Homo sapiens: one gene and its partners. The protein of the gene in region 1 interacts with the protein of each later gene in a pairwise test. Each region holds a gene or a part of one and is shown in the gene's direction. Other genes may lie near its edges.

Region 1 (2,216 bases):
TGCTGTATGCCAGGCTCTATTCCAAGTGTTGGCATATGGGGCAAAGAACAAAGCAGATCAAACCCCGTGCCCCAAACCTTGTGCTCACCTGGGGAAAGAGTATCCTAAGGAGATGGGGATGCAGCATGTGCGGAAGCCTGAAGTGGAGAAAGAGCTCGGGCTGTCTCACGTGATGGCTGCACGCTGGTGTGGCTGAGAGAACAGGGGGGAAGGGGACAAGGGATAATCCTGGTGAGATTAGACCCCCATTTGGGCCAGGAGGGGAGGGACTAGCAGCTGAAGGGTCACAGGGCTCAAGCTCCCCCTCCCGCTGCCGCCCTTAGATCATGCTGCTAGAGACAGCCAGGCGCTACAACCACGAGACAGAGTGTATCACCTTCTTGAAGGACTTCACCTACAGCAAGGACGACTTCCACCGTGCAGGTAGGGCCCAGGGGAGGCTTCGGGGAGGCTTGGCGCCCCTGCTGGCTGGAAGACCTGGGGCCAACTCATCCCTGTTGGAGTCTCTGTTTCTTTATCTCCAAAGTTGGGGTGAGGGTTGAGCCAAGGTGAGAGTGAGGTAAGAGTGCATGTGCCACGTGTGGTGGTGCACGCCAATAGTCCCAGCCACTCGAGGCTGAGGAGGGCAGATTGCTTGAGGCTATAGTGAGCCGTGATTGTGCGACGGCATTCCAGCCTGGTGACAGAGAAGACCGTGTCTCTATTTTTTAAAAAAAGCATGTATTGAGTGCCGACTCTGTACATTGGGTTGCAGTGGAAGTTGAGATGGGAGGAGCCCTGTTACCACATCAGGCATCTTGGTGGGCATTAGGAAAAGCATTCCCCGCCCCCGCCAAAACGTGGTCTCACCCAAGGGAGGCGGGCTGGAGCTCGGTCCATTGTGAAGCGGGCAGCCTTCTTTACTGTCTAGGGGAGCACTGCTTCCTGCCCTCTGAGAGCGCTAACCTGCGTGGGTGGGCTTCTGGAAGAAGGCCTGGGCAGTGAGAGGCACTGCCTAGGAAAAGGGTGGGAGGAGCATTGCTAGTGCTGCAGAGCATGCACCAGGGCCTCGCTCCCTCATTGTCCCACAATCTCTGGGGGACCTCTCTGTATTTCCCGACATCTGTCCAAACCCCACCCTCTCCCCTTCCTCTTACTCCGGCCCTTTCACCACCCGAGACGGTCCCAGTAACCCTTTTAGTATGAGCTTAGCAGGGCAGGGCTGCAGGGAAGCGTTTCTGGCAGAGGAGATTGGCGATTGCAGAGGCCCTGAGGTTGGGGAGAGCTGGTGGTTTGGAGGAACTACAGGGAGGCCCAGGCAGCTGGAGCACAAGGAGATGGGGTGGAGAGGAGGTCGGGAATCCCACCCTACCCCTTCCCAGCCGCTCCTCTGCCACCACCCTGGAACACTGCCAGGGTCCCCTTGAGGGGCCGCCTGCCTCCACCCCTGCCTGATGGGGCTGCTCACAGCACAGGCAGAAGGGTCCTGTCAGCACTTAAGGCTGCCCACTTCCCTCCTCCGCTCAGAACCCTCCGCGGCTCCCGTCTCACTGGGAGAAGAGCTAGAGTCCTCTCTGTGGCCCACAAAGCCCTTTAGGACCTGGCCTCGCTCACTCTCTGCCCTCAGCTCTCACCCTCTCCCCCTGTTCCAGCCACTCTGGCCTCTTACTGGCACCCATCCAGCATGCTGCAGCCAAGGGCCTGTGTACTTGGAGTTTCCTCTGCCCAGAACTAGGGGGACCAACTGGTCCTAGTTTGCCCAGGACCTTCCCAGTTTTAACACTGAAAGTCTCATGGCCTGGGTAGCCCCCGTCCCAAGTCATGGGAACAGCAGACGTTGGTCACCCTCACAATCCCTCATCTCCTTCGGATTGGTCACTGCTCCAGCGTCACCCAGAGCGCAGCCTTCCCTGCCCGCCTTGTGTAAAATAGAACCATGGCTCAGCAGGGCCCTTCACACTTCTCTGCACTGCCTGGTTCCATTGAACTCACAGCCCTCTGACAGGCTGGGCCTCTTCCTAATGTGTTTGTCTATGACCGGTCCCCTAGGCTCTCAAATGTAAGTGCTGGAGCCTGGCACGTGGCAGGTACTCAGTGACATTTGATGACTGAATGAACAAGTCAGTTTTGGGAATGAGTTTGGGCTTTACCTTGAGCAGTGGAAGCCAGCGCTGGGACCAGCACGATGTGACCTAGGTTTTAAAAGCTTCCCTTTGCCTTTGTGAAGGGGACAAGAA
Region 2 (3,500 bases), on another chromosome or scaffold:
CCCCATCTCTACAAATAATTTTAAAAATTAGCTGAGCTTGGTGACACATGCCTGTAGTTCTTAGCCTGGAACTTGGGAGGGTGAGGTGGGAAGATTGTCTTACCCCGAGTTCGAGGCTACAGTGAATCATGATTGCACCACTGCACTCCAGCCTGGACAACAGAGTGAGACCCTGTCTCTTAAAAAAAAAAAAAACAAGTACAGTGGTCTCTACACAGATGGGGAGGTGATGGAAGAAGAGAAGGTTGGGTGTTCCCTGAGTCCACCCTGTTCTTGAAAGTCCCTCTAGAAAAAATCCCAAGACTATTGATTCTGCAAAGTCAAGGACTATGTTGAGTGTTCACCTTGCAATCAGCCCCTCCAACAGCACCTGTCCCCTGGGCACCTCGGGAATATTTGTGGGATGGATGGATGTTGGCCAGTTTTCTTCTCAGCTGTCTCTTTCACTTAGATATAAAAATGGCTGGGGGAGCATTCTGGTGGGTGGCTCAAGAACCTGGAACTAGATGGTGGATGTGGGAGGTCGAGGGCCTGGGTCCTGGTCCCTGTTCTGCCAGGGCCATGCAATGTGATGTGCAAAATGAGCAGATTGGTCACTGCCAGTCCAAGGTTCTGTGACTGAACTGGTGTGGTTTCTCTATGACCCCAAGAAATCCAAGTCTCTTGGTGGAGTTGGAAATAGCTTCAGGGCTGTGTGGCATGGGCTGGGGGACCTGTATGTCCCTCCCAGCACCTATACAGGAATTCTCATTAGGAAAGGGGAAAATGAGGGAAATGCCCTTTCTATGTAATTGAGGTAGAATTCACATACCAGAAAATTCACCGTGTTTTGTTTTTTGTTTGAGACAGGGTCCCATTCTGTTGCCCAGGCTGGAGTGCAGTGGCACAATCATAGCTGACTGCAGCCTCGACCTCCCAGGCTCAAGCAATCCTCCCACCTCAGCCTCCCAAGTAGCTGGAACTACAGGTGTGCGACACCATGCCTGGCTATTTATTTATTTATTTATTTTTGAGACGGAGTCTCACTCTATTGCCCAGGCTGGAACGCAGTGGCACAATCTCAGCTCACCGCAACCTCCACCTCCTGGGTTCGAGTGATTCTCCTGCCTCAGTCTCCCAAGTAGCTTGGATTACAGGCATGTGCCACCACGCCCGGCTAATTTTGTATTTTTAGTAGAGGTGGGGTTTCACCATATTGACCAGGCTGGTCTCAAACTCCTGACATCAGGTGATCCACCCATCTTGGCCTCCCAAAGTGCTGGGATTACAGCCGTGAGCCACCATGCCAGGCCTAATTTTTTGATTTTTTGTAGAGACGGGGTTTTGTCCTGTTGCCATGTTGGAAAATTCACCGTTTTAAGGTGTATAGTTCAGTGGATCTTAGTATATTCACAAGGTTGTGAATATACTGTGAATAAACTGTCACCACCACCTAATTTCAAAATCATTTTGTCACTCCAAAAAGACACCCCTCACTCATTAGCAGTCACCCCCTATTGCCCCTTCTCCCAAGCCTGAGGCAACCAGAATCTTGCCTTCTGTCTCCATGAATGTATCGTTCTGCATTTTTCTTTCTTTTTTTTTTTTTTTTTGAGACAGAATCTTGCTCTGTCGCCAGGCTGTAGTGCAGTGGCATGATCTTGGCTCACTGCAACCTCTGCCTCCTGGGTTCAAGCGATTCTACTGCCTCAGCCTCCCGAGTAGCTGGGACTACAGGCGTGCACCACCACGCCGGGCTAATTTTTTGTATTTTAGTAGAGACAGGGTTTCACCATGTTGGCCAGGATGGTCTCGATCTCCTGACCTCGTGATCCACCCGCCTCGGCCCCCCAAAGTGCTGGGATTACAGTCGTGAGCCACCGCGCCCAGCCCGTTCTGCATTTTTCATATGCATTACTTAGGGTTCCAGATACCAGGTACCAGGGGGATGCATTAATGTGCTCAGGCAATGAAACCACATCTGGAACATCATCTAAGTGGAATCACACAACGTGTGGCCTTTTGTGCCTGGCCTCTTCTTCTAGTGTTTTCTAGGTTAATCCATGCTGTAGCAGGGACCAGTACTTCATTCCTCTTTTTAGGGACAGTAGTATTCTGCTGCATGAATATACTGCATTTTGTATGTCCATTCTTCACTTGATGGGCATTTGGGTTGTTTCCACTTTCTGATATTATGAAGAATATTGTTGTGAACATTGGTGAACCAGTTTCTTTTTTTTTTTTTTTGAGACATAGTTTCACTCTTGTCACCCAGGCTGGAGTGCAATGGCGCAATCAGAGCTCACTGCAACCTCCACCTCCCAGGTTCAAGTGTTCTACCTCAGCCTCCTGAGTAGCTGGGATTACAGGTGCATGCTACCACGCCCGGCTAATTTTTGTATTTTTAGTAGAGACAGGGTTTCACCATGTTGGCCAGGCTGGTCTCGAACTCCTGACCTCAGGTGATCCACCCACCTTGGCCTCCCAAAGTGCTGGGATTAGGTGAAACAGTTTCTTGCGGACTTATCTTTTCATTTTCCATGGAGATAGACCTAGGAGTGGAATTGCTGGGTCATGTGGGAACCGGTTAACCTTTTGAGGAACTGCCAGACTATTTTCCAAAAGAGCTGCACCATTTTACATGCCTACCAGCAGTGTGTGAGGGGAAATGCCCTTTTATTGAACATCTGCCATGTGCTAGGCACTGTGCCATACCTCCTCTCCCATGATCCTCACACCAACCTGTGAAATACCTGTGATTGCTCCCTTTTACTGAGGAGGACACCAGAGCTCAGAGAAGTGAAGTAACTCCCCCAGGATCCCACAGGGAATAAGAAGTAAGGCCTAGATTCACACCCAGCTCTGTCCCTTATGTTTTCCTGTTGACTGGTTGCTAACTGACTATGTGACTGTCCAGATGCTAATGTGGAATCCACCTCCTCCCCAACCCTCCTGGGCACTGTCTTGCAGACAGGGAAGTTGGACCCCCACTACCCAAAAGTCTGCGGGCACAGAGGCAACGTTTTGGATGTCAAGTGGAACCCTTTTGATGATTTTGAGATCGCCTCCTGTTCTGAAGATGCCACAGTGAGTGTCAGCCCCTGAGGGGCTTCCCCTTCCTGAAGAGTGGGATTGGGGTGGTTGGGGTGGAATGGTACCTGTTCTTGGCTCTGGTGCCCCTGACTCCATCGCGGAGGTGAGGTCACTGTGTGGGGAGGTGTTAAGTTAAGGTAGAGGAGGAGACATTCTTGGTGCTGTAGGACTAGCGGCACCACCCCTCCTCTCTATGGGCCTTAGTTCCCCCCCATATAAAATGGGCATAATAGTTCCACCCAGCTAATAAAGCCCAGTGAAAATGTATATTCCGATGGGAAAACCCATCCTTCGGGGAGCTATAAAAGGCTATGAGGGGCATTTTTATGGTGATCAGAAAAGATGTTCCACTTAATCCCATAGTGAGGAAGCGAGCTATAAAAGGCTGTGAGGGCCTTGGATGAATGTGGACACTAAAACCATTCCAG
Region 3 (2,477 bases), on another chromosome or scaffold:
CACACACACTCCAGCCAAGTTAAATACATTTTTATGTAAGATTCTAAATCCTGTGCATACTTATTTGTATACATATTTGATTTTTTTCTGTAGAATATGTACCTAGAAGTGGAATTCCTGGCTCGAAGAATGTATTTTAAATATTAGTGATATTCCAGGCTGATATTCAAAATGCCCATACAAATTTGGTTTTCAGTAACTGAATGCATGTACCCGTTACTCCATATCCTTGACATAATAGATACTATAAAACTGGTAACATTTTGTCAGTCTGTGGGGTAAAAAATGTTAATCCTAAAATGTTTAATTGGAATTTTATGAAAATAGTCATCAACCACCATCTTTATATATTTACCAGCCATTTACTGTTTTCTTTTCTATAAATTGCTTTCATATTCCTAGGCCCATTTGCCTATGGGTTTTGTCTCTTTCTTACTCATTTGTAGGACCTCTATATATTCTAGATGTTAATAGTTCATCTAATATATTGCAACTATTTTCTTCAGTCTATTGCTTATCAGATTTTTTATGTTTTGTCATATTAAAATGAAGGATATTTACATAATAAAATTTGTTAGTTTTTTTATTTATGGCTTCTGAATTTCTTTTTTTTGAGACGGAGTCTTGCTCTGTTGCCCAGGCTGGAGTGCAGTGGTGTGATCTTGGCTCACTGCAACCTCCGCCTTCTGGGTTCAAATATTCTCCTGCTTCAGCCTCCCAGGTAGCTGTGATTACAGGCATCCGCCACCATGCCCAACTAATTTTTGTGTTTTTAGTAGAGACGGGGTTTCACCATGTTGACCAGGCTGGTCTCAAACTCCTGACCTCAGGTGATCTGCCCGCCTTGGCCTCCCAAAGTGCTGGGAATTACAGGTATGAGCCACCACACTCAGCCTGCTTCTGAGTTTTATGTCTAGTTTTCTATAGCTCAAGATTAAAAATAAAAACTCTTACCTTATACCATGCATAAATCAAAGAGCTAAACATAAAAATTAATGCTATAACTAACTACATTAGAAGAAAATGCAGTTGCCTTATTAGGCTTTTTTGATTTACCTATTTTCCTGGAATATCAGTTTGTCTTTAAATAGCTAAGAATCTGACTTATATGCTGTCAATACACACAGTTAGTAATACAGCATGAAAATCCTAACATGCTTTTCTATACTTTAGCCGTGATCATTTTCATTTGAAGTCCTAAATTACAAACTGATTTAAAAGCTATATATATATATATATATATATATATATATATATATGCCACATCCATGAAACCTTCCTTAATCAAATCTCAAGCTTCACTTTTCTCCCTTCAAGCTCCCTGAATACAACATTCTTCCTATGAGATAATTGTAGTCTACTATCTATTACAGTAAATTTCCAATGCATTTTATCTCACTGATTAGATTATAAACTCAACGTGGGGATCGTGTCTTGTTTTTATATCCTATATTGATTGCCAAAGATAATGATTTGTTTTGTATAAAAGTGAATGAATAAAGTAACACATTTGCTTTATTTCAGCTTCTTTGCCCAAAATGCAGTGCCAAGTTGGGTTCCTTCAACTGGTATGGTGAACAGTGCTCTTGTGGTAGGTGGATAACACCTGCTTTTCAAATACATAAGAATAGAGTGGATGAAATGAAAATATTGCCTGTTTTGGGATCACAAACAGGAAAAATATGAACATGATATTTTATAGCTTGGGAAGAAACTTGCAGATGATATGTGCTGCCTTTGCTTCTTATCATTCATGGCAGATTGTTTGTGCTTTCAACATTTCATTTGAAATGGGAGAAGATAAAATCACTTGATGTAACCTGGAAACTATGCTTTACATGGCAATCAAAGCCTTTTGATCATGTACATTTTATTTGATATTAAAATCTTTTATAACCAGATACTGTCTGTGTTTCATATATTTTTAAAAGTTTTGATTGTTGGAATGTTATATGATCTTAAGGTCTGTATAGACAAAATTATGTACAAAAATTTGAAACTATTATATTTAAATGGGTATTCTTTTATTTCCAGACACATAAAGCAGATTTGTTTGGACATATTTTGGAATTATTTCACTTTCTTTCTTTTAAGGGACATTAGTAAACCCATACATGTCTGGATTTTTTTCTTGGAAATGGAAAGGCCATTAGTAAAACGCTGATTAAAAGGCAATTTTCCTATTACTGTTCAGTAATCCCAATTATCTATATTTTTAGAAAAGTGTTTGAGATCCCTTTTGAAGTGATCTACATAAAGAAATACATAAATGTTAGATGTGTTTCTAATGATGAAGAAAACAAATGTAGAGTTACTATATATCAAGTCATTTTGTAGCCCAATATGTGAGTATTGGAAAAGGTAATACGTCCAGATTAGTTTTTTAACCTGATGTATAGAAACTAGAATTATTTTACTCATTATTAATAATTACAATTGGACCTAATTAGATATTTGAACATTTACAAGAATCAGAA
Region 4 (4,191 bases), on another chromosome or scaffold:
GTTGCCAAGTGAAAGGGATGTTGGTCTCCAAAATTATAGTTTGATCCCACAAACACACAAACACATACATGCAAAGGATTGTTTGCTTCACGGTTTTTGATATTTAATTCAATGCTGTTGGAACAGCACAAAAACTAAGTGTCAGTTTAACAGAATCACTTGTCCTTTTAGCATTAAAATAACATGGAACTTAATGCTTTAATTTCCCAACATGCCTTTTTATTTAGAAAGATTCAGACTTATATTTCATTTAGAAATAAAATGCCATTTTATTTAGAAAGATACAGGAGCATTCATTCACGGAACTTTCAGATCTCAGTCCACTGCATAAAATCTTGATCCTGTAATAATAGTTTCTGTATCTTGCATATTCATTCAACAGGTTTAACGCGATGAGCAAATTAATGTTCATCGTTTTTAACATGTTTCATCTTAATCAGAACCCACATTCTCAACGTTAATTGAACGTACATAGGACTATACAAGGGTTAGTAAATAAGACAGAAACTGTTGTTCATTTAACCACCGTCACTTTGGACCAAAAAAGAAAAAATATATATTTTTAAAATTGAGCTTAAAAGAGTCTCTAGAAGCTGGAAGCGTGGCTCTTTTTCAGCAAACTGGGGGAATAGGTTTACCGTGTTCCCCCTCTGGGGAATTTTGAGTCGCCACACTCATGTCTCGACCGAGCCTGGCTCGCTGCGTCTGAGCGAGTACTTGAGGAAGGCTGATCTAGAAAAACCAGCTGAGAGAAGGGGCAGAAGCCCCTGAAACCACGGGCGGGGGTGGGGTGGGGAGCGCAGCTTTGGGACCCTCTAGCCGGAGACTTCCGGCAGCTGCCTCCGACTTGTTCTAAGTACAGGAAAAATCTGTGCGCCCAGTTGCCTCACTCCAACAGCGCGCAGTTGTGCCCGGCGAGGATGCCGCGCTAGTCGTGGAGATGCCCCACCACAAAGAGGATTCAGGTGCTTCCTACTCCGGCACCCAGTGGGTTGGTAGTCCTGTTGGCAGGAGACAAGAATCGTCTGGGCTGCTCCTATCTCTGGCAGGACTAGACGGGGCGTGAAGGAAAGAAGGAAAGAAGGAAAGCAGGGATCGGGCACTGCCCGAGGGCAGATACTTGGGCTTTGGTGTTGTCCAGCGCGCTCGGAGTGCGCTGCCTCGCTCACGCGGTCCCAGGCCCCGCTTCTTCAGGCAGTGCCTGGGGCGGGAGGGTTGGGGTGTGGGTGGCTCCCTAAGTCGACACTCGTGCGGCTGCGGTTCCAGCCCCCTCCCCCCGCCACTCAGGGGCGGGAAGTGGCGGGTGGGAGTCACCCAAGCGTGACTGCCCGAGGCCCCTCCTGCCGCGGCGAGGAAGCTCCATAAAAGCCCTGTCGCGACCCGCTCTCTGCACCCCATCCGCTGGCTCTCACCCCTCGGAGACGCTCGCCCGACAGCATAGTACTTGCCGCCCAGCCACGCCCGCGCGCCAGCCACCGTGAGTGCTACGACCCGTCTGTCTAGGGGTGGGAGCGAACGGGGCGCCCGCGAACTTGCTAGAGACGCAGCCTCCCGCTCTGTGGAGCCCTGGGGCCCTGGGATGATCGCGCTCCACTCCCCAGCGGACTATGCCGGCTCCGCGCCCCGACGCGGACCAGCCCTCTTGGCGGCTAAATTCCACTTGTTCCTCTGCTCCCCTCTGATTGTCCACGGCCCTTCTCCCGGGCCCTTCCCGCTGGGCGGTTCTTCTGAGTTACCTTTTAGCAGATATGGAGGGAGAACCCGGGACCGCTATCCCAAGGCAGCTGGCGGTCTCCCTGCGGGTCGCCGCCTTGAGGCCCAGGAAGCGGTGCGCGGTAGGAAGGTTTCCCCGGCAGCGCCATCGAGTGAGGAATCCCTGGAGCTCTAGAGCCCCGCGCCCTGCCACCTCCCTGGATTCTTGGGCTCCAAATCTCTTTGGAGCAATTCTGGCCCAGGGAGCAATTCTCTTTCCCCTTCCCCACCGCAGTCGTCACCCCGAGGTGATCTCTGCTGTCAGCGTTGATCCCCTGAAGCTAGGCAGACCAGAAGTAACAGAGAAGAAACTTTTCTTCCCAGACAAGAGTTTGGGCAAGAAGGGAGAAAAGTGACCCAGCAGGAAGAACTTCCAATTCGGTTTTGAATGCTAAACTGGCGGGGCCCCCACCTTGCACTCTCGCCGCGCGCTTCTTGGTCCCTGAGACTTCGAACGAAGTTGCGCGAAGTTTTCAGGTGGAGCAGAGGGGCAGGTCCCGACCGGACGGCGCCCGGAGCCCGCAAGGTGGTGCTAGCCACTCCTGGGTTCTCTCTGCGGGACTGGGACGAGAGCGGATTGGGGGTCGCGTGTGGTAGCAGGAGGAGGAGCGCGGGGGGCAGAGGAGGGAGGTGCTGCGCGTGGGTGCTCTGAATCCCCAAGCCCGTCCGTTGAGCCTTCTGTGCCTGCAGATGCTAGGTAACAAGCGACTGGGGCTGTCCGGACTGACCCTCGCCCTGTCCCTGCTCGTGTGCCTGGGTGCGCTGGCCGAGGCGTACCCCTCCAAGCCGGACAACCCGGGCGAGGACGCACCAGCGGAGGACATGGCCAGATACTACTCGGCGCTGCGACACTACATCAACCTCATCACCAGGCAGAGGTGGGTGGGACCGCGGGACCGATTCCGGGAGCGCCAGTGCCTGCACACCAGGAGATCCTGGGGATGTTAGGGAAAGGGATTGTTTCTTTTCCTTCGCTCTATCCCAGGGCAGGACAGTATCAGGCACTTAGTCAGCTCTAGGTAAATGTTTGTACAGGGCACACTCTACACAAAATGGGTACCTTCCATTTTGTGCAACTACAGTCACAGAGTCGTGATCCCCAGATTCAGGTTCCCCAGGCTGGTAGGCTGGCAATCTCCTCTCACTCACCTCTTATGGTTTGTTGTGGTTCTTACGGCAGTGGGGCCCGGTCCAGAAATCTCGAAAGTACCCAGTGAAAGGGGCAAGAATGCGCCAGAGAAATGCTGTAGGGGGAAACGCTAGCAAGGTGTCTAGGAGAAACAGAACGACCACCAAAGAAAACCAAACCAAGGAGTAAACTGCAGGGTTGCCACAGACATTGTCAGACTTTCCGGCCTGCCCAGGGCTAATTGAATGACAGTATTTAGAAAAAGACAAATAGAGCTATTTTCTTTTCTTCTTCACTGTGTTTTTTTTGCAGTCTCACTCCCATATTTGAAAATTCTAGTCCCAATAATTAGAGATTTAGCCTGAAAACAGTTTATCTAAAATGCAGAGGTCTCCCTATTTTATAGCTGGTGAATTCTGAAAAGAAAGTGCCCACTTGGTATTTCATTAAGAAGAAACTTACGTTGGTCCAGTAACTTTAGGATGAATTCAGGGATTACATGGAATCTGAGAAATTGTAAACTTTATTCTGAACATTCCGAAAGTCAAAATGAAATGCCATATTTTCACTCTCAACATTGACAATTAAGGGAAAAATCAAATCCAAACTATTTTACAAATTACATAGGATTTAAATTTTGTTTTCAAAATTGGTTGATCTTAGTTCTAAATCATTTAATATCTTATTTTAATTACTGAGATTAAATGATTTTAGTCATTTGACCGTATCTAAAGGATAAGCCCTTTAGAAGCATTAATGTTAGTTAACATGTTTAAATTATATGTTTAAAGTATTGTGGGGTTTATATATTTATTTATTTAGTCCATATTTTTACTGTTTACAAGTCAGGGAGTAGTTGGAAAGGATCCAAAAGGGGGGAAGATTTATACTTTTAAAATAAAGTTTGCTTTTTCCTGTTTCATCAAAAAGGTATTTAACATCCTAAAACACTTTTGAAAAAGCCCCAATTTATATAGAATCTGAAAAACATGAAAATGCCAGAATTAAATAGTAGTTGTTTGTGATCCCTTGAAATCTGATCATTTTAATTAGCAAAAAGCAATAATATTTTATATTCCATACTTCCCAGAAAGTTAATTGATTCAAATTCTTGCTATGTTATGCCGTCATGCAGATCAAAGAGAACTTGTACAAACAAAAAGATATTAACTGTTTTTTCTAGAAAAACCTTTGTTAGTTATTTAGCTGTAGCATAATACACAGTAGAACTCATTTTTCCGAAGATGATTGCCATAAAGCTTTACCATTTTACAAAGCTCTAGCATTTTAAAATGTTTTCCTAGGCATTC

The links. The genes of interacting proteins can lie anywhere in the genome.
Region 2: the proteins of NR1H2 (region 1) and CORO2A interact in binary tests that used the Homo sapiens proteins (3 or more experiments, as listed by UniProt).
Region 3: the proteins of NR1H2 (region 1) and DUSP12 interact in a two-hybrid assay, tested with the Homo sapiens proteins (one large-scale study listed by BioGRID and IntAct).
Region 4: the proteins of NR1H2 (region 1) and NPY interact in a two-hybrid assay, tested with the Homo sapiens proteins (3 studies listed by BioGRID and IntAct).

The regions. Positions count from the first base shown.
Region 1 is NC_000019.10:50,379,457-50,381,672, forward strand, and holds part of NR1H2 (oxysterols receptor LXR-beta), read left to right. Parts: intron 1-323; coding exon 324-423; intron 424-2,216. UniProt on the Homo sapiens protein: Nuclear receptor that exhibits a ligand-dependent transcriptional activation activity. Binds preferentially to double-stranded oligonucleotide direct repeats having the consensus half-site sequence 5'-AGGTCA-3' and 4-nt spacing (DR-4).
Region 2 is NC_000009.12:98,137,138-98,140,637, reverse strand, and holds part of CORO2A (coronin-2A), read left to right. Parts: intron 1-2,949; coding exon 2,950-3,066; intron 3,067-3,500.
Region 3 is NC_000001.11:161,755,262-161,757,738, forward strand, and holds the end of DUSP12 (dual specificity protein phosphatase 12), read left to right. Parts: intron 1-1,524; coding exon 1,525-1,686; 3' UTR 1,687-1,977; downstream 1,978-2,477. UniProt on the Homo sapiens protein: Dual specificity phosphatase; can dephosphorylate both phosphotyrosine and phosphoserine or phosphothreonine residues. Can dephosphorylate glucokinase (in vitro).
Region 4 is NC_000007.14:24,282,799-24,286,989, forward strand, and holds the start of NPY (pro-neuropeptide Y preproprotein), read left to right. Parts: upstream 1-1,391; 5' UTR 1,392-1,477; intron 1,478-2,442; coding exon 2,443-2,630; intron 2,631-4,191. UniProt on the Homo sapiens protein: NPY is implicated in the control of feeding and in secretion of gonadotrophin-release hormone.